Linked DNA regions of Homo sapiens: regions 1, 2 and 4 are each linked to region 3. Evidence: fine-mapped expression QTL. A gene starts in region 3. Each other region holds a variant in brackets. All regions are shown on one strand. Distances are between the middles of the regions.

Evidence for each region. PIP is the estimated chance that this variant, and not a neighbour inherited with it, causes the effect.
Region 1: its variant is the best candidate, but not a certain one, in a credible set for the expression of NDRG4 in unexposed skin (GTEx, PIP 0.68).
Region 2: its variant is the best candidate, but not a certain one, in a credible set for the expression of NDRG4 in atrial appendage (GTEx, PIP 0.52).
Region 4: its variant is the best candidate, but not a certain one, in a credible set for the expression of NDRG4 in iPS cells (HipSci, PIP 0.73).

What each region holds. Positions count from the first base shown.
Region 1 is chr16:58,338,729-58,346,335 of GRCh38, forward strand. No RefSeq gene overlaps it. Among named protein-coding and RNA genes, the nearest start is that of PRSS54, 48 kb to the left of the region's middle. The variant C/T (reference allele first, on the strand shown) is at 4,603.
Region 2 is chr16:58,427,022-58,434,628 of GRCh38, forward strand. All of the region lies in intron 1 of LINC02137 (long intergenic non-protein coding RNA 2137), which reads left to right. Among named protein-coding and RNA genes, the nearest start is that of LINC02137, 9.5 kb to the left of the region's middle. The variant T/C (reference allele first, on the strand shown) is at 3,150.
Region 3 is chr16:58,496,242-58,503,848 of GRCh38, forward strand. NDRG4 (NDRG family member 4) reads left to right here and starts at 3,902. Exons shown (of 15, transcript NM_001242835.2): 1 at 3,902-4,028; 2 at 7,557-7,607. The coding sequence starts at 4,008. It also overlaps the pseudogene RNU6-103P. RefSeq lists enhancers at 1-501, 3,760-4,576, 4,577-5,394, 5,395-6,211, 5,804-5,853 and silencers at 3,731-3,810, 3,821-3,880.
Region 4 is chr16:58,565,821-58,573,427 of GRCh38, forward strand. All of the region lies in intron 16 of CNOT1 (CCR4-NOT transcription complex subunit 1), which reads right to left. Among named protein-coding and RNA genes, the nearest start is that of SNORA50A, 9.7 kb to the left of the region's middle. The variant CAT/C (reference allele first, on the strand shown) is at 3,804.

The DNA.
Region 1 (7,607 bases), 160 kb before region 3:
CCACCACCCCAGCAGTATACACTGAACCCAGTTTGTAGTCTTTTATCCCTCACCTCCTTCCCACCCTTCCCCAACTACCCAGAGTACCCAAAGTCCATTGTATCATTCTTATGCCTTTGCGTCCTCACAGCTTAGCTCCCAGTTTTGAATGAGAACATACAATGTTTAGTTTTCCATTTCTGAGTTACTTCATTTAGAAGATTACCCTGTGGGCCGGCACGGTGGCTCATACCTGTAATCCCAGCACTTTCGGAGGCCGAGGTGGGCATATCACCTGAGATCAGGAGTTTGAGACCAGCCTGGCCAACATGATGAAATCCTGTCTCTACTAAAAATAAAAAAATAAAAAATTAAAAAATTAAAAAACTTAGCCAGATGTGGTGGCAGGTACCTGTAATCCCAGCTACTTGGGAGGCTGAGGCAGGAGAATCGCTTGAACCTGGGAGGCAGCGGAGGTTGCAGTGAGCCAAGATCGTGCAATTGCACTCCAGCCAGGGCCACAAGAGTGAAACGCCATCTCAAGAAAAAGAAAAAGAAAAAGGAAAGAATAATAGTCTGTGGGCTGGGCATGGTGTCTCATGCCTGTAATCCTAGCACTTTGGGAGGCCGAAGTGGGAGGATCACTTGAGGTCAACAGTTCAAGACCAGCCTGGCCAACATGGCGAAACCCCCTCTCCACTAAAAATACAAAAATTAGCTAGGCCTGGTGGCATACACCTGTAATCCCAGCTACTTGGGAGGCTGAGGCACAAGAATAGCTTGAACCTGGGAGGCGGAGGTTGCAGTGAGCAGAGATTGCATCACTGCACTCCAGCCTGGAGACTGTCTCAAAAAATAAAAAAGAATAATAGCCTGCAGAGGGCTCCTTCTCTCCTTTCCTTCCCTTTCCTCAAATCTGGATTGCACTCCACATTGTTGCCACCGGGAAAACCACAGTCACTGTTTCTGCTCTAGCCCTGACAACAGGTGGTCAAGGCCACAATGGATAATTTTGGTATTGGAAAGGACAGAGCTCGGATGGTCCAGTTCCCTCAGTTTGCAGAAGCGGGGGTTGGTGAGTTGCCTGTGCCACCTTTGGTAGCACAGCTGTGGCTAGAGGCAGCTGATCTGGTATTTAGTTAGGAGTTTTTCCCATTGCATCCCAAGGGATCAAGATTGGAGGGACCATGCACATCGGAAATTGCCTTGGAACTTCTTATGACCAAGTCCCCAGAGAGTTCTTTTTTTGGCTGCTCACAGAACTTACTTCCTGTGATCTGAAAGCCAAAAGAATTTTGAGATTTTAGAATATTCTGTTGTTTTCATGGCCCTACTCTGTTTAATAAAAGAGCTTTTCAACCTCCCAGCTTGATTCAGTTTTTGAAAATGTAGAATTTAGGCCAGGCGCAGTGGCTCACGCCTGTAATCCCAGCACTTTAGGAGGCCGAGGCAGGCGGATCACCTGCGGTCAGGAGTTCAAGACTGGCCTGGCCAACATGGTGAAACCTTGTCTCTACTAAAAATACAAAAATTAGCTGAGTGTGGTGGCATGTGCCTGTAATCTCAGCTACTCAAGAGGTTGAGGCAGGAGAATCGCTTGAACCTAGGGGACAGAGGTTGCAGTAAGCCAAGATCGTACCGCTGCACTCCAGCCTGGGTGACAGAGCAAGACTCTGTCTCAGAAAAAAAAAAAAAAAAAAGAATGAAAAGAAAAAGAAAATGTAGAATTTAAGTTAGACATTGTTTCAAACTCAGAAGGCTCTTCCTCTCTTCTTCTCAAAACCTCCCCATTTTTCCAGCCCCAGTTAAATGTTTCCCCCACAACATCCCTACGAGATCTCCCTCAATTAACCCAAGTAAGGTGACTGTCTTCCTTCCACACAGTGCTGGAACTTCTCTCATTCAAAATCTTTCTTCCTCTCTCTCATATTAAAAATGGTATTAAAGGCTGGGCACGGTGGCTCACGCCTGTAATCCCAGCACTTTGGGAGGCCGAGGCAGGTGGATCACGAGGTCAGGAGATCAAGACCATCCTGGCTAACACGGTGAAACCCCATCTCTACTAAAAATGCAAAAAATTAGCCGGGCGTGGTGGTGGGCGCCTGTAGTCCCAGCTACTCAGGAGGCTGAGGCAGGAGAATGGTGTGAACCCGGGAGGCGGAGCTTGCAGTGAGCCGAGATCGCGCCACTGCATTCCAGCCTGGGCGACAGACAGACTCATCTCAAAAAAAAAAAAAAAATTGTATTAAAACTACCTTTCCCAGCCCACAGCCCAAATCCACTCGTTTCTTCAGTCGATATATGAGTGTCTTTCCCCCTCATGCATGTATCATTGACGTCTCTATCTTTGCCGTTCTGATACGTAAAAAAATTAATGCTATTTTTTTCTTTCAGTAAGAGTTTATCAGCCTTTTTTTTTTCAGTCAGACATCATAAGCCATTTTTGCTTCTTTTTCTGGGGCTGCTTATTCTTGCACTTTGTCCATTTTTCTATTGATTTGTTGACCTTATTAATTAACAGGAACTGGTTATGTATTAAATAAATTCTTTAAAATAGATCATGCCATTTAAAAAAATTTATTTATTTATTTAATTTTTGAGACAGGGTCTCACCCTGTCACCCAGGCTGGGGTGCAGTGGTGCAATCACGGCTCACTGCAACCTCCACCTCCTGGACTCAAGCGATCCTCCCACCTCAGCCTCCTGAATAGCTGGGGCTACAGGCTTGCACCACCATACCCAGCTAACTTTTCTTATTTTTCATAGAGATGGGGTTTTGCCATGTTGCCCAGGCTATTCTGAGACTTCTGGACTCAGGCGATCTGCCTACCCTGGCCCCCGAAAGTTCTGGGATTACAGGCGTGAGCCACTGTGCCCAGCCTAAAAAAAATATTTAATTAACGCCAAGTAAAGGGGCTCATCCCTATAATCTCAGAAGTTTGAGACCCTGTCTCTAAAATAAAAATGAAAAAATTTTAAAAATTAGCCGAGTGCATTAGCATGCACCTGTAGTCAAAGATACTCAGGAGGCTGGGGTGGGAGGATTGCTTGAGCCCAGGGGTTTGAGGCTGCAATGAGCTCAAACTCACTGCAGTGAGTATGGCTACCAGCCTGGGTGACAGAGTGAGACCCTGTCTCTAAATATATATAAATACATAGTTTATACCATAAATCTGTGATATAAGTTTTTCCCGTGCATATGTTTTAACCTTTCTATAGTAAAATTTATCAGTCTTTTTCTTTAAGGCTCCTCGATTTTCAATCTAGCTTGGAAAAATATTCCTGACTTCAAGATTTTAAAAACACTCTTTTTTTCTAACATTTTTTCAAGTACTTTTAATGGTTTTACGGTATTGAAATTTTTGCTCCATTTGGAACATATTTGGGTGTGAAGAGTACACTGGAATTCAACATAAAAATTTTCCAACCCACTTATTAAATAATCTACCTTTTCCCTACTGATTTGAAATGCCATGTTATCAAAAAACAAATCATCTTTTGGGTTTTTGTGAGCCCTCTAGTCTGTCCCATTGATTTTCGTGGCCACTCAGGTGCCAGTGTTTAGCTCTCTTTATTACTTCTTGGCTTTCTTATGGTATTTGTTACTTTCTGCACTACATGATATAAATTCACAGCAATGTCAAAATTTGTCATAATTCTCAATTTTAGGTCCTTTTCACCCCAGACAGCACCCCCCCTTCATTCCCCCTGCCCTGTCCCCATGGAACTTTTTTTCTTTTTCTTTCTTTTCTTTCTTTCTTTTTTTTTTTTTTTTTGAGACACTCTCACTCTGATGCCCAGACTGGAGTGCAGTGTTGTGATCTTGGCTCACTGCAACCTCCACCTCCCGGATTCAAGCGATTCTCATGCCTCAGCCTCCAGAGTAGATGGGATTACAGGCACCCGCCCTCACAACTGGCTAATTTTTGTGTTTTTGGTAGAGACAGGGTTTCCCCATGATGGCCAGGCTGGTCTCGAACTCCTGGCCTCAAGTGATCCACCTGCTTCGGCCTCCTAAAGTGCTGGGATTATAGGCGTAAGCCATCGGCCCCAGCCTTCTCTTCTCTCTTAAACTTATTCTCTCTAACACTCATATGAAGCCTAGTGTCATGCAGTCTTTTCTGGTTACTCACTTTTTTATATACATATCTTATTTTCCCACCAAGATTGTCTCTCCCGGAAGGCTAAGCTAATCTTTCATGTACCTACACCATCCACAGCAGTATCTGGTACACTGCTAGGCAAATAGAGAAATTCTGAGGATGCTGTTAAAAAGCATTGTCTCAAAATTGATAAGAATTAACACGATAAGTATTAACTTCTAAAATAAATTAAGTAACATTTATTTTAGAAGTTGTCTCTCTCAAAAATCAGTCCTTTTTCAACAACCAGACAATTTTTTTTATTTGCAAATTTTGTTCAAGGTTATTTTACATTTTTAAATTTATTTCATTTTTAGTTGTAAAATTTACATGACATGAAATTTACCATTTTAACCATCTTAAGTGTATAGTTCAGTAGCATTAAGCACATTCACAGAATTGGGCAGTCATCACCACCATCCATCTCCAGAACTTTTTAATCTTGCAAAACTGAAATTCTGCATTTATTAAACACTAACTC[C/T]TCATTCCCACTCTCCCCAGCCCTCCTGGCAGCCACCATCCTACTTTTTGTCTCTGTGAATTTGACTACTCTAGGTACCTTATATTAGTGGAATCATACACTATTTGCCTTTTTGTGATTGGCTTATTTCACTTACCATAACATCCTGAAGGTTTATCCACGTTGTAGTATGTGTCAGAATTTCCTTCTATTTTAAGGCTGAATAATGTTCCATTGTGCTTATAAACCACATTCGGTTTATCCATTCATTCAACTAGGGTCGTGTCTACCTTTCGGCTATTTGTGATTACTACAGCTATGAACATTGGTTTACAAATGTCTGTTCCAGTCCCAATCTGTTTCAGCTCTTTTGGGTATATACCCGGAAGTGGAATTGCTGGGTCATATGGTAAATCTATGTTTAATTTTTTGAGGAACTGCCATCTTGTTTTCCACAGCAGCTGCATCATTTCACACTCCCACCAGCAGCCCACAAAGCTTCCAATTTCTCCACATCCTCATCAACACTTATATTCTGTGTTGGGTTTTTGCTTGTTTGTCTGTTTACTTTTCTTTCTATAATAGACCTCCTAATGGGTATGAGGTGGTATCTCATTGTGGTTTTGATTTGCATTCCCCTAATGGTTAATGACACCAAGCATCTTTTCATGTGCTAAACGGGTATGTGTCTATGTCTTCTTTAGAGAAATATTGATTCAAGTCCTTTGTCCATTTTTAAATCTGGTTACTTGGTTTTTTTGTGGTTGAGTTACAGTGGTTTTTAAAAAATGTTCTGGATATTAGCATCTTTTAAGATATATGATTTGCAGACATTTTCTCCCATTTCATTAATTTCCTTTTCACTCAGTTGATAGCATCCTTTGATGCACAAAAGTTTTAAATTTTTATTTTAGCCCAATTTACCTGTTTCTTCTTTGTTGCCTGTGCTGTTGGTATCACACCCAAGAAGACCCTGACAGTCTGACAGTGTGATGCGGTCCCTTAAAATGAGCTGTCACCCTAAAATATTAGAAATTCTAATAAGAGAGCCTGGGCCAGCCAGTTATATAGGTTTTTCCAGAAAGTACAAGTTGTTCCAGAAAATGTGAAAGTGTGTGTCCCAACTCTCCTGGTCAATAGATTTGGCTTACAGGATCCGTGTAACATGTTTTCGTTACTGAGTGCAACTCTGTCCTTCTCAGAATATCTTGTCAGAGCAGAAGGGGGCAGATGAGGTCCTACAGACACAATTAATAACACAAAAATGTTGGGCAAGGTCATCTTGGAAAAGGTTGTTACTCTTGGAATTTTAATAGGCCCAACTGTATTATAAATTGTATCTGAAAGACACAACAACTATGTAGAGTACAATTTACTCTTCAAAATACAATGGAGGATTGAGTGAACATGCAACTGTAACCACAGGACAGGAAGGGAGGCCTGAAATATGCTCTGATGGCAACTCTGTGCTTATCTTGGTATCAGAATGATCACATGCTTTAGGCCGGGCAGGCGCGGTGGCTCACGCCTGTAATCCCAGCACTTTGGGAAGCCAAGGTGGGCTGATCACTTGAGGTCAGGATTTCAATACCAGCCTGGCCAACGTGGTGAAACCCCGTCTCTACTCAAAATACAAAAGTTAGCCAGGTGTGGTGGCGTGCACCTGTAGTCCCAGCTACTTAGGAGACTGAGGCACGAGAATCGCTTGAACCCGGGCACGAGAATCCCTTGAACCGGGAGGTGGAGGTTGCAGTGAGCCGGGATCACGCCACTGCACTCCAGCCTGGGTGACAGAGTGAGACTCCATCTAAAAAAAAAAACCAAAAAACAAACAAACAAACAAAGAATGCTTATAAGCTTCAAGTTCGATATCCAGAACATTCTGCTTAACCCCTAGGGTATTTATTTTTGTCACCTGTTTCTGGTATTCATAAGGTATCTTTGTCTACTGTATATGATTTAAAGAAGTTTCTCTTATATTTTCCCCAAATTTGAAAGCAGCAACTTTCCGTTCTGTGGACCTGTGTGAAAATGTCAAGTTCACACGAATATGAGACTTAAAATACAGATACATTCTCAAGTCATCAAAAATATGTAAAGGGTCAAAACTACATTTTTAAATTATATTCTGATTTGGAGTTTTCAAACCTTCAAAAATCACAAGTCATTTTTTTAAAAAGTCCTGAGCCTTTACACTAAAATGTAATTTGACCTTTTTCAAACATGAATTTTACTATATATAGAACAGAGATTCATAAAGAAATTTATGTGCGTTATACCTAGTGATTCATATTAATGGCGAGTTTTGAGAAAAGAGTAGTAACATTAATAATATTTCGGAGTCAGGTTAGAGATCAAGATTACAATAATTTTTTTCCTTTTTTTGATGTTGCAGCCTGTCCAAATCAAAACAAATATATTTTCCACCTATAGATGGCAATATTTGTACAATGAGTTTATCTTAATTAAAGGAAGATTATTAGAAATAATCTTGATGTAAAGATCTTCAAAGCTTTTTATAATGGAAAACTTCCAGCATACCCAAAGGTAGACAGAGTAGTATAATGAACCACCATGCTCCCACGATCCACGTTAACAGTTACCATGGCCAGTCTTGTTTCATTAACCTACATCCCCTTCCCCTCCATCTGGATTAATTTGAAGCAAATCCCAGACTACTGCAAAATTAAAATAGAAAAATAAAGTTATGATACCACCTGCAAAACACCTTCAAGGAATTCTGTTGGTACCCATAGAATCCTAAAAATAAATAAATGGCCAAATAAGAAACAAACAAAAGCAACCCTGCTGCAATGAAGATAAAAAACACTGAATGCCGGCTGGGCGCAATGAAGATAAGAAACACTGAATGCCGGCTGGACATGGTGGCTCAGGCCTGTAATCCTAGCACTTTGGGAGGCCGAGACGGGCGGATCACGAGGTCAGGAGATGGAAACCATCCTGGCTAACCCAGTGAACCCCGTCTCTACTAAAAATACAAAAAAAATTAGCCAGGCGCAGTGGCT
Region 2 (7,607 bases), 69 kb before region 3:
GGGGTCAAAAATGCGCCCTGGCTTGATGAAGTGGCTTCTCCACTATTACCAGCATTTCCATCTGTTGCTTTGCTTGTCAACAATATGTCACTGATCACCTACTGTGCACAGGCACAGGGCCAGGTGCCCAAAGAGAGGACAGAAAGAAATATATCTGGAGGAGCTGCCAGTTCCTGCAGGGGACGGAGGGACACTCTGAACCACAAGAGCCTTGGCAAAGTGCCCCTCAAGACTTCCCTTCTCCAAGTTAACACTTATCAGCTTGTTCTTTTTCTCCTCCTTTCCTTTCCCCTTTTCTTTGTCTCCATTCTCTCTCCTTCCTTCCCTCTCTTCTTCTTTCCTTCCTTCTTTCTCTTTTGCAGATTGGTACAGCTTTATCATCAAGAAGTTAGAGTTCACATAATAATTTGTCTTGATAACTGTACCTTAGTTCAATTTCGTTTTTAGCAGAAATAACAAGTGCTTGTTGAAAAGATAAAACCATATGAAAACATCAAAATAAACCTAGCAAATCCTCACTATCTCCATGCCCCACTCTTCCTCTCCTGAGAATCACTATTAACAACTTACCATTTACTTTCCAGGTAAGACTTTTCTCCCCCATGCATACACATATTTCTGTATACAGTTTTTAGAAAGTGAATATGAATTCTTCCTGTTTAACTTACTGGTGTGTTCTCAGCTCCTGGCACATAGTAGGCATTGAAAGCATTTCTTGAACAAATAAATTATGAATTTCTGAAAATTATCTCTTATTCAAAAATACATCATGGGCCGGACACAGTGGCTCAAGCCTGTAATCCCAGCACTTTGGAAAGCTGAGTCAGGTGGATCACTCGAGGTCAGGGGTTCGAAATCAGCCTGGCCAACATGGTGAAACCCCGTCTCTTTCAAAAAATACAAAAATTAGCTGGGTTTGGTGGCATAAGTCTGTAATCCCAGCTGCCCGGGAGGCTGAGGTGGGAGAATCGCTTGAACCCAGGAGGGAGAGGTTGCAGTGAGCCAAGATCACGCCACTGCACTCCAGCCTGGGCAACAGAGTAAGACCCTGTCTCAAAATAAATAAACAAATAAATAATACATCGTGGACATCCTTCCATGTCACCTACCTCCATCTTTTTATGGCTGTGTGATATTCCATAGAATGGCTGCGTCATTATCCAACCAGAACCCTGTTGTCAGATGTTAGGCTGTCTCTGTGTTTTCATTGTTTGAGATGATTGTTCCTACATCCTTGCACACTTGTGTATTCTGTAGGCAAGTGTAGAGGACAGAATAATGGCCTTCCAAAGATGCCCACATGCTAATGCTCAGAACCTGTGAATTTGTTACCTTGCATGACAAGAGACTTGCAGACGTGCTTAAATTAAGGCTCTTGCGGTAGGTGGGGGGAGGTGATCCTGGATTGTGGGGTAAGCCCATTATAATCATAAGGGTCCTTGTAAGAGAGAGGCAAGAGAGTCACAGAGCAGGCCATGTGATGCAGAAGCAGAAGGGAAGAAGGAGATGCAGTGACAGAAGCAGAGGCCAGAGTGATGCCATTGTTGAAAGGACTACAAGCCAAAGGAGGCCTCTAGAAGCTGGAAAAGGCGAGGAAATGAAGTCTTCCCTGTAGCCTCCAGGATTGTGGCCTTGCCAACCCATTGGACTTCTGTCCTCCAGAACTATGAGGTTATGAATTTGTGCTCCTTAGCCTGCCCAGTTCGTTATTGTGATTTGTTATCGCCACAATAAGATGCAAACTGAGCCAGAGACCTAGAAATGAAATTGCTGGCATCTTAGTCTGTTCAGGCTGCTATAAAAAACACCATACCCTGGGTGGCTTATAAAGAGCAGAAATTTACATTTGACAGTTCTAGAGGCTGGGATGTCCAAGATCAAGATGACAATAATTCCTTGTCTGGTGAGGGCTGTTTCCTAGTTCATAGATGGCACTTTCTGGCTGTGTCCTCCCATGGTGGAAGCGGTTAGTTAGCTCTCTGTGACCTCCTCCATGAGGGCTCTGCCTCATCACCTCCCAAAGCACCCCACTTCCTAATACCATCACTTTGGTGATATGAATTTGTCACGACAGCTGGGGGAGATGTAAACCTTCAGACCAAAGCACTGGCTCAAAGACTAAATTCATTTTCTAAATTCATGCACCATCACTCATACACACAGCGGTTTCCATCCCGCTCACTGCCCTCCAGCTGCTGTCTAATATTTCTATGACCTTCTCAAAATGTCAATCCCAGAACGACCTGCCTGTCCACACACTGCTGACCCGTGCATAGTAAGCATTCTGCTGGGTTTGATCAGCATCCTTGGGAACTGCACATTAAGCTGTGCTCATTCAGCTAGAAATGACCTGAGCGCTTCAGTCTTCAGTCACGCCTCTGCTGTCCTATTCTCGTGCCATTGGTTTGTTTTTGACATTGGGGCAGAACTTTACTTTTATCCCTCCTAAATTTCACATTGTCTAAGTAAAATGGGGAGAGATGAGAATCTTCAGTGTCAAATTACTGAGTAGTTCTTTGTTGCCATTTCATTTCCATGAGTTTTTGGAGAATGGAAAGAGCAGGTGGATTTGGCCCTTAAATCTCATAGGGAAAAAGAAAGTGAATAGAAATAACATCATAAATAATAGAGAGGGTAAAAGCCTCCATATCAGAAATGGCTCAACCTCAGGGATTTTAACGCCTAAGAAGTGATATTTATTTTTTATTTTTTATTATTTTTTTGAAACAGGGTCTCACTCTGTCGTCCAGGCTGGAATGCAGTGGCACGATCTTGGCTCACTGCAGCTTCGGCCTCCTGGGCTCAAGTGATCCTCCCACCTTAGCCTCTCAAGTAGCTGGGACTACAGGCACACAGCTAATTTTTGTTGTTGTTGTTGTTGTTGAAACAGGGTTTCACCATGTTGCCCAGGCTGGTCTCAAACTCCTGACCTCAAACGATCCGCCTGCCTCGGCCTCCCAAAGTGCTGGGATTACAGGTGTGAGCCACCGCACCTTGATCAGAAGGGATATTTATACAGGAAAGCTCCATAGGACAGTCCAGCTCAGCAGGGACTGGTTTAATGTTGGGAATTCTATTTTGTCATTAGTTCCAGAGCAGCCAAGCCACCAAAATATCACTTGGATGCTGCCAGCTTCCTCCAGTGCAGG[T/C]AGAGGAGGTGTCCTGGGAGCCCACAGGCTGCATTCCCATGAGACAGACGCCCCCATCAGTCCCCTAGGACCCCGCCCAGTATAGGGCAAGCAAGCTCTCAATGGTTGACAGTCCCTTGGGTCTTTATGTCCTGACTAGGAATAGGAGGTCTTACAAAACTGAAACAAGTTAGAATTTGAAGAGGGCTAATTCCATCCCGGCCCCTCCTTTTACAGACAGGAACCGAGGCTGGGTCATCGGCTCCAGAATTTACCAGGCTGTGCATTGTAGAACCTCCTCATGGACGGGCTCTGTGTGCAGGCTTTACTCTGGCCAATGGCAGGTGCGTTACCAGACAGGAACGCTTCTGGACAATGCTCCCCGACTCTTGTGTCAGAAGCACTGGATTCCTTTCCTGTGGCTGTCGTAACAAAACACCACAAACTAGGTGGCTTAAAACAACAGCGATTTATTCTCTCACAGTTCTGGGGGCTAGAAATCCAAAATCAAGGTGTCAGCAGGGCCACGCTCCCTCTGAAGGCTCTAGGGGAGAATCCTTCCTTGCCTCTTCCTAATTTCTGGTGGTTTCCTTGGCCGCAGCTGCGTCAGTCTGATCTCTGCCTCCATCGTCACACACGGTCTTCTGCTGTGTGTCACCGTGCTCTCTTCGTTCTGTGCATGGCTGTCTCTGTGGCCAAATTTTCCCTTTTATAGACACCAGTCATATTGGATTAGAGCCCACCCTAATGAGCTCTTCTTGAATTGATGACATCTGCAAAATTCCTATTCCCAAAATAAAGTCACATTTACTGATATGGGGGTGAGGACTTCAACATATATTTTTTATTATTTATTTATTTATTGAGATGGATTCTCATTCTGTCACCCAGGCTGGAGTGCAGTGGTGTGATCTCAGCTCACTGCAACCTCCACCCCCCAGGTTCAAGCAATTCTCCAGCCTCAGCCTCCCGAGTAGCTGGGGCTACAGGCATGCGCCATTGTGCCTGGCTAATTTTTGTATTTTTAGTTGAGACAGCGTTTCACCATGTTGGCCAGGTTGGTCTTGAACTCCTGACCTCAGGTGATCCACCCACCTCAGCCTCCCAAAGTGCTGATATTACAGGCATGAGCCACCACACCAGGACTTCAACATATATTTTAGAGATGCAGTTCAACTCATAACAAGCACCTTCTACCAGGAGACAGAATGAAGCTGGTAACAAAGGCCCAGAGACACTGGTTCCTTTAGCCAGAGCCTGGTGATACTGCGGAGTACCTCGACAGGCAACCCTGAAACTAGTATCCCTGGGCCAGATGTTTAATGGGCATGTAAGAGGCTGTCCCTGAGTCAGAGCTTGCAGAAGGAGGGGCTGGTACAAGGTCCAGCCTCTCCTCAACTGTCCTGAGCCCCTAACTCAGCAAAACAGAAGCCCTGGCGTTCTTCAGCCACCTGCCATAGGGTCCAGCAAGCAATTGTCATGACTACTTACTCACATCCTTGCCATCTTTCCTCCCTCACTCCAAGAGGCTCACCAAAGCACCCCTCCCTACCCCACACACGGCTTTCCCTGAGAAGAGCTCTGATTAATTCATATGGTTGCCTCCTTCTCATGGCATTTCCAATATGTCATGGTGCCCCTTACTGACTGGCCTCCCAGGCAGCTCTCGGGCTTGCAGCTCTCAGCCTTGGGGAACGAGGCTGCACCATGTCCAGGGCCTTGCTGCCTGGGTGCTTACTGGTTTCAAAACATTGCCACTGGGCTGCTTGTCCTGATCCTTCCTCCGACTTAGTTCAGTCAAGGTTTGCAGATGTACCCTGATCTGTCACCTGGAAAACATCAAGACCCAGCCTGTCCTGTTTGTGTGTGGCCACTCAGGCTAATCCATTCCGCAGGGGCAGGGAAGGCAGCCCAGACTGCTTCCTTCCAAGTTCTTTCATCTTTGACTGGATGCATTTCTCAAGCCGACTCTCGGCCTAGATAGAAAATTGCAGCAGAGTTTTTACGTTGGGCAGTTCTAAAAATGCCACCTAAGAGCTTGCACCTGTGCTGAATGCTTCCCATGTGTAATAGAAGCACAGGTATGAAGGTGGGAATGTTCCCAGCTGTCCCAGGCCCACTAAAGAGGGCTCTGGCATTGCCTACTGTTTGCTTCCACGCCCTCCCTAAAGCATCTTGCCACTGCCAGACAAGTTCTGAGAGACAGAAGGGGAAAGAACTGTCCCGAGGAAGCAAGGTCAAAGGCAGTACACCTCATGGCAGGTGGCAACAGGACTGCTGTGCAGACTCACCCGTTGAACATGCTATGAGTGCTGCCTTCTGTAATTGGGCCCCTGGCTGCAGGGCAGAGGCCTGGCAAGGTGGCAGGGGTGGAGCAGACATGAGTAGAAGAAGGAGATTTTCTGTAGAGGAGGATAAGCATCTTATGGGAGTTGCATGTGTTACAGAGGACGGTGATGAGCCCAGAGTGGCTGTGGCATATACGCCTAGACCCCCATCATGTTCTTCAGGAGACATGAGCACTCACTGGAATTCCAATGGGCTGTTGTTCTTTTAGACTCTACCCCGAGACTGGACCACATGGGTCTCAAAACCTCCATAGGGTCCCACTTGCATTGTCCTATATAATCCTCACAACCACCCGGAAGCATTGGTGTTATTATTATCCCCATTTTACAGATGAGAAAATCAAGGGCCAGGCAGGCCAAGTGACTGGCTAAAGATCTCCCACAGCCGATATGTGCAGAGCTGGTGTTCCGTGAAAGAGCCTATATTAGTTAGGGTTCTCTAGAGGGACAGGACTAATAGGATATATATATATATATATATATATGTTAAGAATTAACTCACATGATCACAACGTCCCACAATAGGCTGTCTGCAAGCTGAGGAGCAAGGAGATTCAGTCCAAGTCACAAAACTGAAGAACCTGGAGTCTGATACTTGAGGGCAGGAAGCATCCAGCATGAGAGAAAGATGTAGGCTGGGAGGCTAGGACAGTCTAGTCTTTTCACATATATATATATATATATATATATATTTTTTTTTTTTTTGGCCTGCTTTATAGTCTAGCCTCACTGGCAGCGGATTAGATTGTGACCACCCAGATTAAGAGTGGGTCTGCCTTTCCCAGCCCACTTATTCAAATGTTAATCTCCTTTGGCAACACCCTCACAGACACACCCAGGATCAATACTTTGCATCCTTTAATCCAATCAAGTTGACACTCAGTATTAACTATCACGGAGCCATATGTGCAAAGCGATCCCCAAATGCCAAAGGAGCCAAGAAACAAAGGAGGCAGACAAATCCTGTTTGTCAGTATTGGATGATTTATTGGGGGAACTCACAGACAGAAGCGTGGTCTTGGGTGGCCATAATACAGGTAGATCTCCCACTGTTACTCCCAAGACCTCAGGCTTGTATACCATAGAGAAAGGGTACATGTGTTCCAGCAAGAAAATTACAGGCACCCCTCCAGAACAGGCAAGAACACTGTGTGTGTCACAGCCCACAATTTGTGCGATAACATCAAGGTTGACGTGTTCTTACACTAGGGACAGGAAATAAAGTAGAAACAAGGAGGCATTCACAGGACTAAGCTAATCAGAAGTCAAACCTAGGGATGCATCCAAAATGGAGTTGCTCTTGTCTCTACAGCTAGGATTTAGAACCTGGACCTGGACGCCTCACTGCTTCCTGCTTCCTTAGTGCCTTGTGGCCTGGAGTCAGAATAATCTAGCTCAAACTTGGGAGTCAAATGCTCCAGGGTCTTGAACTGGTCAGAGCTCTCAATGCCGTAAGTACCTACAACCCCCTTGGGATGTGCTGTGGGGGGACCATCAGGTGTCTCTGCAGCCCAGGAAAGGCATTCACAGTGCCCTCAGGGAGAGTCTGCAAGGGCTGGCCAGAGCCGCTGCCCACAAGGAAAGCTGGCCTAATGTGCTCTGGCTTCCCGCCTTTCTCCATTTGGCCTAAGAACAGAGAACACCCTCATCCCCCACCCTTACCCACACCCCCACTCCCAGGACTCCCCGGGCTGCAAGGGTCACATGGCTGGGAGGAGGCGAGTCTGAGTGGGTCCCCTCCCAGCAGGCTGTCAGTGTGAGATTACAAATAACTGGCAGTTCCCATAATTACTGTGCTGCCCAGAAGCCTGGGCTGTCTATTCTGAAGTAAGGGTGACTAAAGGTCAGGGCTCCACGATCAGCCCCGGCTCAGGTTCTGGTTCTTCCATGGTACTGGTCTCATGACCTCAGGCAAGTGAGCGAGGCAGGCAAGACTGGGGCTGGCACGCAGCTCACCCTCACTGCTGCATTCAGTCCATTCCAGCACCCATCCATGAATCAGCACCCATTCTCCTGGCCAGCAGCCATCCCCTGACTGATCAGCACCCATCCCTCCTGACCAGGACCCATCCCCCCCAATTATCACCCACCCTCCTGACCAGGACCCATCCCCCTGACAAGCACACATCCC
Region 3 (7,607 bases):
ACTGCTGCTGCGAAGCTGCCTCTGGCCCCTGAGCCCTCTGAGCTGCAGCCCCGGAGTTGCGGGGCCCAGGGTGTGTGGGACCCCGGTTCTCAGGATCCTCTGCTTGGTAAAAGGCAGGTTGCATTAAAAGGCACCTTCCTGTCCACTCCTGTCACACCACATGGAGGCAGCATTTTTTTCGTTTTTTGTTTTAGAAAAGCAGCCACAAGAATGGATGGTCGTTATCTGGGCCAAGACCTGGCAGGGATTTTATCTCCTGCTCACTATGGCAGGCGTTGTCACTGTCCCCTGCCTCCGTGGGGGCAGCCAGTGGGGGAGGTAGTATAGCAGAGGGACTAACATGAGCCAGACAGACCTAGGTTCTGGCCCCGCCACTTCCAAGCATGTGACCTCCAGCCCAAGTCACTCCATTTGTCTACCGCATTTTCAGGGAGACAGGCAGCACGGACCTCCCGAGTGTTTCTAAGGCGATGGTGCCCATGGGCCCCTCATATGGACACTCAGCTGACCGTGACGAGTGGCCACCAGAGTGTGGAGTTAGCACCAAACTGCCTGGGTGTGGTTCCTGGCTCTGTGCCCACTAGCTGTGTGATGTTAGGCAGGTTACCAAACCTCCCTGTGCTTTATTTGCCTCATTTGTAAAGAGGGTATTAAGAGAGAAAATGAGTGCTCGCCCCAGCAGCACATATACCAAAATTGGAATGATACAGAGAAGATGAGCACGACCCCTGTACAAGAATGACCCACATATTCGTGAAGCCTTCCATACTTAAAAATATTTTCCAAAAAGAGGATAAAGGCTGGGTGTGGTGACTCATACCTGTAATCTCAGCACTTTCGGAGGCTGAGGCAGGTGCATCACTTGAGGTCAGGAGTTTGAGGCCAGCCTTGCCAATATAGTGAAACCCCATCTCTACTAAAAATACAATAATTAGCCAGGTGTGGTGGCAGGCGCTGGTAGTCCCAGCTACTTGGGAGGCTGAGGCAGGAGAATGGCTTGAACCCGGGAGGCGGAGGTTGCAGTGAGCAGAGATTGCACCATTGCACTCCAGCCTGGGCAACAGAGCAAGACCATGTCTCCAAAAAAAGAAGAAGAAGAAAAAAAAAGAGGGATAGAGAGAATGGGTAAAGCACTCCAAGAAAGCCTGGCACATGGAGGACATTTGAACATAGTGTTTGCCACTCTTGATTCTGAGACCTCAGGCCCACCCAGAGTGCTGGGGTACTAGTAGCTGCCGCTGCTTACTAGCCAAGTGAGGAAATTACCTAACCTCTCCAACTCTCAGTTTCCTCATCCCTTCTCATAGGTCCATGAGGATTATATGTATTATCCTTGCAGCTGCCTGTGCAGTAGGCACTGCTGTTTCTCCCATTTACATACGGAGGCTCAGAGAGGTTGATTGACTTCCCCAAGGTCACACAGCAAAGAAGTGGCAGAGCTATGAGTGGCACCAGGGTTTGGCTGGCAAGACCTGGGTTTGGCTGGCAAGACCTGAGCCTGCCTTGTCTGGCCACTGTAACTGCACAACCACCAGAAAAAGGGCCAACAATTTGGAGAGGCACACAGGCTGCCTCATTTCTCCCCTGCCAGGACCTGGGCAGGGGTGGGGTCAGATCTAGAGTGATTTCTGCAGTTTTTTCTGATTCTCACAGCAGCTTGGTGAGAAAGGCACACAGTCCCTGCTTTACAATTAGAAGCCTGAGACACAGAGAGGTTAAAAAAAAAATCTTGCCCAAGGTCACCCGGCTGGTAGGGGGCCAGGAAGGACTTAAACCCACGTCTGTGGGTTTGCAGACAGCTGAGCAGTCATGGAGGCTGTGGCTTGGAGTGGGCAGTGTCGCAGGTCAGCTTGTCACCTGGGTCCAAAGGTGGGGAGAGGCCACTCAGGGGTCAGAGGTTGGAGTGGGCGTAGGATTGGGTGGGGCCTTGGGGGACATGGGAGGGCATTGTGGGCAGAGGGCAGGGCTGTGCCTCAGTTTTCCAAGCCTCTTCCTGTGCCACAGTGCCTGCAGGAATGGGGAGCATGGCCAGGAGGTGACGGGCCAGGGGGACTCCCCATTCTACTTCCTGCTGCCCTGGGGAGCACAGGGCCTGTCAGTCTTCCCTAGGCCTCCAGAGTAAGAGGTGAGAGATGGAATAGGTGCCCCCAGGCAGAGGACATGACCAGCAATAGTGTACATAGCAGGTGTCGACCAGGTCAGCAGGTACCCAGAGATGAAGAGATGACCACTTTCTCCAAGGGCAGCCAGTCAGCATGCAGGGCCATCAGCATGGGCTGGGGTGAGTGGCGTGTTCCTTCTTCAGCAAGACAGGGAGAGGAAGCCGGATAGGAGGCAGCTACTGACGTTGACATGCCCACCTCCTGTAGACCCACCCGGCCCTTGTTCCTGGAGGCAACCAGTTTGGGGCTTGGCTCTCGGGTATCTGGGGAGCAGGACACTAGGGCTATCTCAGGCTCTGTGCCCTGACCCCACCCTTGCCCAGGCCCTGGCAGGAGAGAAATGGGGCAGTCTGTGTGCCTCTCCAAACTGTTGGCCCCTTTTCTGGCAGTTGTGCAGTTATCGTGGCCAGACAAGGCAGGGTCAGGTCTTGCCAGCCAAACCCTGATCCCACTCATAGGTCTGCCACTTCTTTGCTGTGTGACCTTGGGCAAGTCAGTCAACCTCTCTGAGCCTCCATATATAAATGGGAGAAACAGCAGTGCCTACTGCACAGGCAGTTGCAACGATAATACATATAATCTTCATGGATTTGGGAGCATAGGCACGCAGCAGCCCCCTTCTCTCTGTGGCTCCTGCTCTCCCAGCCTTGGGCCCCCTCCTCTGCTTCCCTCTCTGGCCTATTTCCTCTCCTCCTGTGCACTTCTTGGCCTTTCTTCTCCTCTGCTCACTCCACCTGCAGGCCTCGGGCGAGCTCGCCACCCAGATCCTTGCTGCCCAGGAGAACAGGGCACGGAGCCTGAGATAGACCTAGTGTTCTGCTCCCCAGAGACCCGAGAGCCAAGCCCCAAACTGGTTGCCTCTGGGAACGAGGGCCGGGTGGGTCTACAGGAGGTGGGCATGTCAATGTCAGCAAGCTGCCTCCTAGCCCCGCTTCCTCTCCCTGGTGGTCTGGAGCCCCTGGCAGCAGGGTGAGGGTGGGGAGGGCAGAGCTGGTGTGTGCCTGACCATACCCCTGGCCCTGCTATCTGCCCAGGGCCCCTGGCCCCCGGCCCCCAAACTCCATTTTCAGCATGTGGGGAAACCCCCTGTATCTGCGTGGGCAAGGTGGGATTTTCATCCCTGGTGGGTGGAGAAGGAGCAGCCCCTTGAAGCAGGGTGATAACCCAAGTTGCCCCAGAAAGCAGCAGCTCCCCAGGCCTCCACAAGGTTAAGCGATGGAACCTTCCTAATGGGAAGGCTGGGCGTGGGGGTCTGGTCCCCAAGATGTTGGGCTTGGGGCCCTCTCGGGCCCTCCATACTCCCCAAGGTGTGGGTCAAGGGCTCTAGCTGTCTGGGCAGTGCCCATGCACCCTGCCCTGCCCCGCATTGGTAAGCTGTGCATGTCTGTGACGACCCTGTGTGTACCTGACATGGGTGAGTCTGTACGTGTGGTCTCGGCTTTTGTATTCGGAGGATCCCGTGTGAGCTGCAGCTGTTGGCGTGTGCCTATGTGCTGGGGGCGGATGCAGGGGCTGGGGACCATCAAGGATGATGTGTGGCTGGGGTGGGAGGAGCAGTGACAGGGCTGGGGCAAGGAGGACTTCAGAAGCCAATTGGAGCCAGGCTTGTCTCCCAGCAGCCAATATGGGAGCTGGGGCTCCTGGTAAGCGAGTGGCTGCTCAGAAACCCTGCGGGGAGGAGGGGCTAGCTAGGCTGGGCCAGGATCCCTGTATAAATGGCCCAGGAGCTGTGCCCCATCACAGAGCCGACCATCTCCCACTCGAGCTGCCCCCGCCCTCTGGACCCGAGTGACTCAGGCCTTTGTTTGTCCTTCCTGGTAGAGGCGGGTTCCCTCCCTCGGCAAGATGCCGGAGTGCTGGGATGGGGTGAGTGAGGGCGCTGCGGGCATCAAGGTGGGCCGGGAGGATGGTGCATCCTTATGACCCACCGCAGGGAGGAAGTGCCCCCCTCAACCCACATCTGGTGGCAGCCCGGCCTTCAAATAGCCTCACCCTGGGGTCACTGAGACACGGCCAGAGTGCTCCAGGTTCCCTGGTGATCCTGTTTGCAGGAGTGGCTGGGGGCAGCTGCTAGTCAGAGCCCATAGCAGGGGCTGGGGGGAGCGTGTGGTTGGGGGGTGGGTGACATATCTGCAGGAAATGGAACGTGGAAGGCACTGTCTGACTTGGCTGCATTGCCCGTGTGGACCCGGGCGCTAGTGCCTGCATGTCCCTCTGACCGTGTGCCCTCTGGTGTGCGCTTGGATGGTGTCTGCCTTGGTGATGCCTGGGGCCATCAGGCCAGGGGGCGGGGGTGTCCTTGGTGAGCCCCCGAGGCTGTGTGCCCAGTGTGCGTGCCGGGTCTGTGCGTGCAGGGGCTGCCGTCCCAGTGGGCGGCCGTCTAGCTTGTTTGGATGGCTGCGCCAGTGTGATGGGAAGGACAGGCGGCCTCTTCCTTAGGAGCCACCTCACAGTTCCCAGGGCTCTGCTGCGCCAGCCGGGCAGAGGCAAGGAGGTCTGGGCCACACAGGAATGACAGCCTTTCAGGCAGGGGTCCCTGCTGGGGAGGAACGAGGAGGGGTTGCCTGCCTGCCTTATTTTGTAGGTGGGGGAAGGCAACGCTGGAGCCGTGAAGCTGGCAGGGCTAGGGGACCCCAGGTGGAGCCCAGGGCACCTCCTCTCGCCGGGGCATCAGGTACCCCGGCCCCATTCTTCCTCAGGAGGGAGAGGCAGGGGCAGACTCACCCCCACCCCCGGGCCCCACACGCCTGCCCTGCCGGTTCCGCAGACGATAGGTCACCCCGCACGCACGGAGGTGACGACGTCAGCACCTGCCCGCCCATGCAGACCCTGTCCCCTGAATTATTGATGCGGCTGACAGGCCGAACCACAGCACCACCAGCACCAACTCCCACACCGGCGCAAAGCCCGGCTCAAAGCCCCACTCCCCTCCAGTGCTCAAGGTCACAGGCGAGGGGAGACGGACCGACCGAGAGGAGCCGCCACAGCCCCCTCCCCTGCTGCCGCAGTGCTTCCCGCCTGCGCCTACCTGGAGGCGGGGCCGGCTCTGACGTCACCCAGAGCCAATGGGAGTGCTCGGCCCTGAGGGTTGGGGGCCTCAGAGTGCACCGCGCTGTGGCCCTTGTGGGGCTGCCCTTGCGCAGCGCTCCAAGGGACGGGGATGTTTGGCTTCGATCAGGCTGAACTGAGTCCTGAGCTCTCCGCAGAGGGTGAGAGAAGGCGTTAGGGAGGTTCGCAGCAGGGTTCAGCGAAGGTCACTGGACTTCGTAGGACAGGTAGCCCGGTGACGCCCAGGCCCAGCCCCAGCCCTTCCCATCCTGGGAGATGAGCCCTAGTAGAGCCTGATCACGTCACCTCAGGGGGATGGGGACAGGGGCGGCCACACCAGGGCTGGGAGAAGACAGTGGGGCCTCCTCAGCAGCAGAGAGCAGACACCCCTCACACCCCTCAGGCGGACCCGCACGCTGCGGGTCTGGGTTTGGAAGGCACCGCCCTGGGCTCTCGACGTCTGACCCCAGGAGGATAACTGTCCTTTATGCAGCAGGAGGCGCATTGCAGTTCTTTTGCAGCCCCACCCTCCAGAGCTGAGAGAACTCACAGGTGGCTGTGAAAGGGCTGCCTGGTCAGGAGCTCCCTCGGGTGGAACCTGATCTCCTGTGAACATGCAGCCTTCAGTGCACCGCCCTGGCCCCTGAGACTGGCACCTGGCAGGGCCTGCCCTCCCTACTCTGGGATTGACCTTGGGCAAGTCATTTCCCTTTCCTAGCCTCAATTTCCTCCTCTATGGCTTGGGCCTATGTGGGAAGTAAATGAGAAAACTGTGGGTCAGTGGTCAGTGGCGGGGAAGTGTTCCTGGATTTGATGGGCCCCGAGAAAGGATAGGCCTGGGATGGGAGGGGCTGTGTGGTCTGTCCCCTCTCAGCCCTGGTGTGGCCTCCTCATCCCCTGGGTGGTGCAATCAGCCGCATGGCTCACCCTAAGGCTCATTACCTGGGCTCTCCTGGAGGACAACAGGGAAATAAAAAGGGCCTGCAAGTCAAAGAGTGTTCTCCAGGGTAGAGCCTTTGGCCACCAGGTTGGTGCCAGCTTGTCACTCCACACTGGAGACACAGGCCTGGACAGTGGTCCTCTGAGACCAGACCCACTAATGCTGGCCCCTGAGCAGCTGTCTTCTGCTGTCTAAATCTCCTTTCCCATTTGGAGGCAGGAACTCAGGTTCTTTCTAAACCAAAGTGTCCTCACCTGCAAAACAGGGACTAGGGTTCCTGTCTCTTGGGTAACATGCAGGAAGCCTGGCACACAGTAGGTGCTCAGTCGCTTGATGTTTCTTTCATGTCCTTGACCCCAGCCCCACCTCCAACTCACTGGGCCACTCACGTGGTTCCCAGGGCTCACAATGATGCAGAGAGGATCGGTTTATTTAGCTCAGATGGCCCCTCTTGAAGTTTGCCCATCCGAGTGGCTAAGAATGCCCAGTTTGCAAAGGAACAGCGAGAAGGGCATTCTCCCAAGGCTCAGGGATGCCCTAGCATAACAGCCCCCTTTCTGGGGCTTTCTCCAAGTGCTAAATGCTCCACAAACATTGGCTTGTCTAGTTCCCGCAAAGTCCCTGTGAGGTGGTTCTGGATGGAGAGGCTGAGGCACAGCAGAGAAGTAACATGACATGCTCAGTCACAAGTAAGGGGTAGAACCAGGTCTTCCTGAGGAAGTAATGACCTTGAGCAGCAAAACCAAAGGTGTGAACTCAAGAGGATCCCAGAGCAGGCTCTGCAGAAGGCCTCTAGAGGGGATGGGGAGGGGGGTCTGACCCGGGCCTGCCTGAAGGGAGCCCTTGAGGATGCTGGGCTCACACAGAAGGGCGTTCAAGGTGGAAGGAACCACATGCGCAAGAGCCTTAGAGTGGGAGCCAGGGGCAGTGCCGGGGTCGGGGCTAGGCTTGGCTGGCACGGGGTGTTTTCTGAGGATTCCAGGCAGGACCACTGAGGCCGTTCCCCTGCAGCAGCAGGAAGTGCCTGAGAGTTCTGAGTGTGAGAGGGACTTGGGCTGGGGAGGCAGAGCTGTCCAGGAGGGGCTGCTGCAAGATGGAGAAAAACAGCCTCCCTGGACCCTCAAGGGCGGAGGACAGTGACAGCACAAACCAGTGGCTGGTTTGCAGAGAGGACCAGACCTTCCCCATGCAGATCAGTTCACATTGTCTCTGTACTGAACAGCCCTGAGAAGGGGTGTTCCATCCATTCAGTCCTCTCTGGGGGCTTCTTGGGGTGATGAGAACAGGATGCCCCAAGTAGGGGCTCTACCACAGGCCTAACAGGTACCAGGCTGCGTCACCTCATTCCCCAGAGGAGCCAAGAGCGGAGGCTGCCCAGAGTGTCCAGCACGGTCTCTCCCCTTCAGGAACATGACATCGAGACACCCTACGGCCTTCTGCATGTAGTGATCCGGGGC
Region 4 (7,607 bases), 70 kb after region 3:
TGTCGTCCCAGCTACTCAGGAGGCTGAGGGAACTGCTTGAACCCAGGAAGCAGGGGTTGTAGTGAGCCGAGTTCGCACCACTGCATTCCAGCCTGGGCAAGAGAGCAAGACCCTGCCTCAAAAAAAAAAAAAAGTACAAGTCAGTTGTTTTGTAGAATGTCCCTTGATTTGAGTTTGTCTGATGTTCTAAATTCAAATTAGGTATTATAACCTTACAGAATAAATTACCTTGTATTCTTCTCAGTGCATTTTATGAAACACATGATGTAGGTTTCAGATGGTGATCACTTTGATCAGTAGACTAACATGGTATCTGACAGGTTTTTCTGAAGTTGTTTTCCCCCTTTGTAATTACAATGTAATTTGTGGAGAGATATTTTCAAACTACATAATTATCCTGCTCTTCAAACATATATCCATTACTATTAACACACATTAAAGATTACAACTCCATCGTAATTCTTCTATATTTATTAGTTGAAATAACTTTCCTTCTCTGGCATTTATTATCATCAGTATGGACTCAAAATACTTTGGATACATTATCTTATTAAATTTTTCAACAAGTACTGCTAATAGATCAATTAAAGAAATTAATTGAAACCTGGAAGTTAGGTAAACTGCCTTCTTACAATAAAAACATTTTGCGCAATTTTAACAGGCAATTAACTTTCCAGAATATTCCACTGCAGATGGATTAAAATGTATAAATGTAAAAGGTTACACTTTAGAACTTGAAACTGTAGAACATTTAGAGCTTATAGAGCAGAGTGCTTTGGAATGGATAATTATTTGTTGTACAAGGCAGTCTTGTGCACTGTGGAATGTTTAGCCAGTATGATTGGTTTCTTTTTTTTATTTTTGAGACGGAGTTTCACTCTTGTTGCCCAGACAGAGTGCAATGGCAAGATCTTGGCTCACCCCAACCTCTGCCTCCCGAGTAGCTGGGATTACAGGCATGCGCCACCACGCCTGGCTAATTTTTCTATTTTTAGTAGCGATGGGATTTCTCCATGTTGATCAGGCTGGTCTTGAGCTCCCAACCTCAGGTGACCCACCCTCGGCCTCCCAAAGTGCTGGGATTACAGCTGTGAGCCACCGCGCCCAGCCTAGTATCATTGGTTTCTACACTACTAGGTATTAGAGGCACGTTTCTCTCTAATTATAACAGCCAAAAAGACCATCAGGCCAAGCATGGTGGCATGCGTCTATAGGACCACCTACTCACAAGGCTCAGGCAGGAAGACTAAGCCAGGAGTTCAAGGTTGCATTGAGCTATGATTGTGCCTGTGAACATGCACTGTACTTCAGACTGTACAACAACACAGTAAGACCTCATAAGAAAAAAAGAAAGAAAGAAAAAAAAAGGCTGAGCATAGGTGGCTTATGCCTATAACCCCAGCGCTTTAGGATGCAGAGAGGACTGCTTGAGCCCACGAGTGAGCCATGATCACATTACTACACTCTAGTCTGGGTAATAGAGTGAGACTATTTAAACAACAACAAAAAGAAATAATGCTGGCCGGGCGTGGTGGCTCATACCTGTAATCCCAGCGCTTTCGGAAGCCAAGGCAGGAGGAGTGCCTCAGCTCAGGGGTTTGAGACCATCCTGGGCAACATGGTGAAGCCCCATTTCCACAGAAAATTAAAAATAAAAATAAATTTAAAAAATAGGCATGCATGGTAGCATATACCTGTAATCCCAGGTAATTGGAGGCAAGACATCATCTCAAAAAAAAAAAAAAAAACCTTCTCATAAAGCAAAACGACAGGGTATGGGCTGACTTCCTCTCCTTCATAAAAGCAACTAGAAAAGTGTCTGAATCAACTTTTTCAGAACTTTGGAAGTTAACCAAAGGCTTATAACAAGTGGGAAATTTTTATTCAAGAGACTATCAAGTTTTCTAGCACATTAATTTGCCCTATTATTCCCATCTCCAGCTCCACAGCCAGCTTAGAAGCTGACAGCCCTCAATCACAATGAAAACCAGAAGCCTGAGAGGTGAATCAAAACAGGGTTAAAACATCTTCAAAGCCTCCTTCTCAGTGAATTGTCATTATTTCATCTGTATAGGGAGTCTGTGTGAGAACACAATGACAAGGTTGGATTTATTTGACCTGAAAACTGACCCAAACAAAAACCTTTTCTGCATGAGGTGTTTACAAAAAACATTTGAAAGTAACTGTTTTAAACTTATTGCCTATCTGAGGTGGAAGACTACTACAGTTGGAGCAAACTACATACAGGCTAACTAAAAATCTGTAAAGAAGGCCGGGCACGGTGGCTCACGCCTGTAATCTCAGTACTTTGGGAGGCGGGCGAATCACCTGAGGTCGGGAGTTTGAGACCAGCCTGCCCAACATGAGAAACCCTGTCTCTACTAAAGAAAATACAAAATTAGCTGGGCGTAATGGTGCATGCCTGTAATCCTAGCTACTCGGGAGGCTGAGGCATTAGAATCACTTGAACCCAGGAGGTGGAGGTTGCAGTGAGCCGAGATTGTGCCACTGCACTCCAGGCTGGGCAACAAGAGCGAAACTCCATCTCAAGAAAAAAAAAAAAATCTGTAAAGAAAAACTTTGAGCCGGGTGCAGTGGCTCAAGCCTGTAATCTCAGCACTTTGGGAGGCCAAGGCAGGCAGATCACGAGGTCAAGAGATCGAGACCATCCTGGCCAACATGGTGAAACCCTGTCTCTACTAAAAATACAAAAATTAGCCAGGCGTGGTGGCATGCTCCTGTAATCCCAGCTACTCAGCTGAGGCAGGAGAATCGCTTGAACCCCGGAGGTGGAGGTTGTAGTGAGCCGAGATCGTGCCACTGCACTCCATCCTGGGCGACAGAGCGAGACTCCGTCTCGATTTTAAAAAAAAGAGAGAAAAAAAAAAAACTTTGGAAGTAAAGACTAAGGTGGCTGTGAATTGCCTGGCTTAGTGCTGAATTGATTCCCAAGATTAGGTTTAAGAAAATCTCGTCAATCTTAGCTGACAACAAGGCTAACCAAGCAGGAACTTCAGTAGCCAACTATTATAAAGAACAGAATTAGTTCAGGAAAGTCACTAAACAAAAAAAGGGCAATAACGAACAATGTGCTCTGCTGAAGAAGGAAGATCTGATTCCAGGAAATGCCATATTATTTAAAGTTGTCTGTTTTCAACAAAAAAATTACAAGACTTGTAAAGAAACAAAAGGGTGTCCCATGCAAAGGGCTGGAAAGCTATGTAGAAATGATCCTTGAGGAAACACTGCTGTTGGACTTACTAGACAAGGAATTCAAATCAGTTACCAAACACATTTATTTTCATTTTATTTTGGTTTTTGAGACAGAGTCTTACTCTGCTGCCCAGGTTGGAGTGCAGTGGCACAAACTCGGCTCAGTGTACCTTCCATCTCCTGGGTTCAAGCAATTCTCTTGCCTCAGCCTCCCAAGTAGCTGGGACTATAGTCGCCCTTCACTATGCCTGGCTAATTTTTGCATTTTTAGTGGATACGGAGTTTTGCCATGTTGGCCAGCTGGTCTCAAACTCCTGATCTCAAGTGATCCACCCACCTTGGCCTCCCAAAGTGCTGCTGGGATTATAGGCTGAAGCCATGACACCCAGCCACTACAGAACACGTTTAAAAGAAAATATATCAAAAGAACTGAAGGAAAACATAGGAATACTATCTCAAAAAGCATGTCCATAGAAATTAGCAAAAAAAAAAACCAAAAAACAGAAATTCGTTTTTTCCCATCAGATACTACACTCTACAACATACCAAACAGAAAAAGTACAGTAACTGTAATAAAGTTTCACTAACCA[CAT/C]GTCCCACCACACATTCAAGCAGACAAAATAGTTCATTTGAAGATAGATCAATTAAAATTATCCAGCCTGAGAAAATGAAAAAAAAGGGGGTGGGGGGATGGGGGCTGAGAACTCAAGGACATGTGGAGCACTACTGAGTGTGCCACCACAAACATAATGGGAGTACAAGGAGAGAAGAAAAAGGTACGGAAAGATTTGTAGAAATAATGACTGAAAACCCGATAAATTTTATTAAAAACATTAATCTAGACACCCAAGAAATTCAATAAATTCTAAGTAGAATAAACTCAAAGAGATTCATACCTAGAATAACATAATCAAGCTGATGAAAGAAAAAAGACAAGGAGAGTATCTTACCAGCAGCAAGATAGAAGCAACTCATCACATACAATACTCAATAAATTAACAGCTGATGTCTCATCAGAAACCATGGAGGACAGAAAGCAGTGGGGGAGCATATTCAAAATGTTCAAAGAAAAGGAATGCCAACCAGGAATCCTTCATCTGGCAAAGCTATCCCCAAAGATACAGGAGGAATTAGGATATTCCCTAGATAACAAAAAGAGGTAATTCATTGCTAGCAGTCCTGCTGAAACAAGAAAAATTCAAGAATCCTGGCTGAAATGAAAAAACACTGAACACTGACCTGAATCCGTATGAAAAACTACTGGCAAAGATACACAGGTAAATACAAAGGACAGTATAAATCTCCTAATTAAAGAACAACTGGGCTGGGTGCAGTGGCTCATTTCTGTAATCCCAACACTTTGGGAAGCTAAAACGGGAGATCAGTTTGAGCCCAGAGGTTCGACACCAGACTGGGCAACATACTGAGAACCTCAACTTTACAAAAAATTAAAAAATTTATCAGGTGTGGTGGCACATGTTTGTGGTCCCAGCTACCTGGGAGGACCGCTTTGAGTCTGGAGGGTTGAGGCTGCACTGAGCTGTGATCGTGTCCTGCGTGGGCAACAGAATGAAACCCTGTCTCAAAAAAATAACTGCATGAAGCAAGAATTATAAACCTTTTGGTGATCACATAATGTATAAAGGTATAATTTGCATGACAATAATGGCAAAAATCAAGGGGAAGGGGACAAAGCCATACTAAATGAAATTTTTGGATCCTACCGAAACTAAAAGATTGGAGTAAGTTAAAATGTTAGTTTTAATACCCAAGGCAACCACTAAGAAACAAAACAAAAAATAAAGTCAAAGAAACATAGGAGTTAAGATGGTACACTACAAAATATCTATTTAACAGTAAGACAGGCAGTAATGGAAGAACAGAGGAACAAAAGTGACAAGAGATAGAAAGATTAACAGCAAAAGAGCCCTATATTATCAATAAATACATTAAATGCAAGACAGGCAGAATGTAGTAAACACAAACACAAATTCACAAACATGCTCCAACCATACCTTCTCTAAAAGAGACCTACTTCAAATTAAGACACATATAGCTTGAGAAAAACAAAACAAAACAAAACAAAAAACAAAACAAAAATATACCAAGCAAACCACCATAAGAGAACTATAATGGTTATACTAGTATCAAACAAAACAAATGTTTAAGAAAAAAACTGTTAATAGAGACAAAGACATTTTACAGTAAGGGTCAATCCATCAGAAATATGTAACCATTAAGGCCGGGCACGGTGGCTCATGACCATAATCCCAGCACTTTGAGAGGCCAAGGTGGGTAGATCACCTGAGGTCAGGAGTTCAAGGCCAGCCTGGGGAACATGGTGAAACCCCATCTGTACTAAAAGTACAAAAAAAAATTAGCTGGAAATGGTGGCGCACGCCTGTAGTTCCAGCTACTCCAGAGGCTGAGGCAGGAAAATCAATGAAACGTGGGAGGAGGAGGTTGCAGTGAGACAAGACAGTGCCACCACACTCCAGCCTGGGTGACACAGCGAGACACAAGACTCCATCTCAAAAACAATAATAAAATAAAGAAGTATGTAACAATTATAAAAACACATGTACTTAAAAACAAAGCCCCAAACACCTGACGGAAAAACTGACAAAACTGAAGGGAGAAAAAGACAGTTAAAATAATAGGAGGCCGGGCATAGTGGCTCATGCCTGTGATCCCAGCACTTTGGGAGGCTGAGGCGAGTGGATCACTTGAGGTCAGGAGTTTGAGACCAGCCAGGCCAACATGGTGAAATCCCATCTCTACTAAAAATTTAAAAATCATCTGGGTGTGATGGTGAGCACCTGTAATCCCAGCTACTGAGGCACAAGAATCGCTTAAACCTAGGAGGCGGAGGTTGCTGTGAACCAAGATCACACCACTGCACACCAGCCTGGGGGACAGAGGCAGACTCTGTCTCAGAAAAATAAAAAATTAAAAATAAAAAAAATTGGGCTGGGCGTGGTGGTTCACACCTGTAATCTCAGCACTTTGGGACGCCAAGGCGGGCGGATCACCTGAGGTCAGGAGTTCGAGACCTGCCTGACCAACATGGAAAAACCCCATCTCTACTAAATATACAAAATTAGCTAGGCGTGGTGGCGCATGCCTGTAATCCCAGCTACTTGGAAGGCTGAGGCAGGAGAATCACTTGAACCCAGGAGGCGGAGGGTTGCGGTGAGCCGAGATCATGCCACTGCACTCTAGCCTGGGCAACAAGAGCAAAACTCCATCTCAAAAAAAAAAAAAATTGAATACTTCTGTACTCCACTTTCAATAATAGATAGATCTACAAAGATAGGCCAGGTGCAGTAGCTCATGCCTGTAATCAATCGCAGCACTTCTGGAGGCCAAAGTGGTAGGATGCCTTGAGCCCAGGAGTTCAACACTAGCCTGGGCAAGACAGTGAAATCCTGTCTCTACAAAAAATAAAAAATTAGCTGGGCATGGTGGTGCATACCTGTAATGCCAGCTACTTCAGAGTTTGAGGGGGGAGGTGGAGGCTGCAGTGAGCCATAATCATGCCACTGTACTCCAGCCTGGGTGACATACACACACACACAAAAATTAAGTTAACGCCAGGCGTGGTGGCTCATGCCTGTAATCCCAGCAACTTTGGGAGGCCAAGGCAGGCAGATCACTTGAGGTCAGGAGTTCGAGACCAGCCTGCCCAACATGGTGAAACCCCATCTCTACTAAAAATACAAAAATTAGTTGGGAGGGGTGGCATGTCTCTATAGTCCAAGCTACTTGGGAGGCTGAAGCAGGAGAATCACTTGAGCCTGCAAGGCAGAGGTTGTAGTGAGCCAAGATCGCACCACTGCACTCCAGCCTGGGCAATAGAGCAAGACTCTGTCTCAAAAAAAAAAAAAGAAAAAAAAATTAAGTTAAATAAATAAAATAATTAATAAATTTAACAAAATCAGTACAAGATGTACACTGAAAATGAAAAAATATCACTGAAAAAAATTAAAGAGGCCAGGCGTAGTGGTTCACACATGTAAGCCCAGCACTTTGGGAGGCTGAGGTGGCAGATCACCTGAGGTCAGGAGTTTGAGACCGGCCTGGCCAACATGGCAAAACCCCATCTCAACTAAAAATACAAAAATTAGTGGGGCATGGTGGTGCACACTTGTAATCCCAGCTACTCGGCAGGCTGAGGCAGAAGAATCACTTGAACCCGGGAGGCAGAAGTTGCAGTGAGCCGAGATCATGCCAATGCACTCCAGCCTGGGCAACAAGAGTGAAACTCCATCTCAAAAAAAAAAGAAAGAAAGAAAAAAAGAAAAAAATTAAAGACCTAAATAAGTAGAAAAACATCCCAGATTCACGGATTAAAAAGACAATGTTATTAAGACAGCAGTACTCCCCCAAATGAG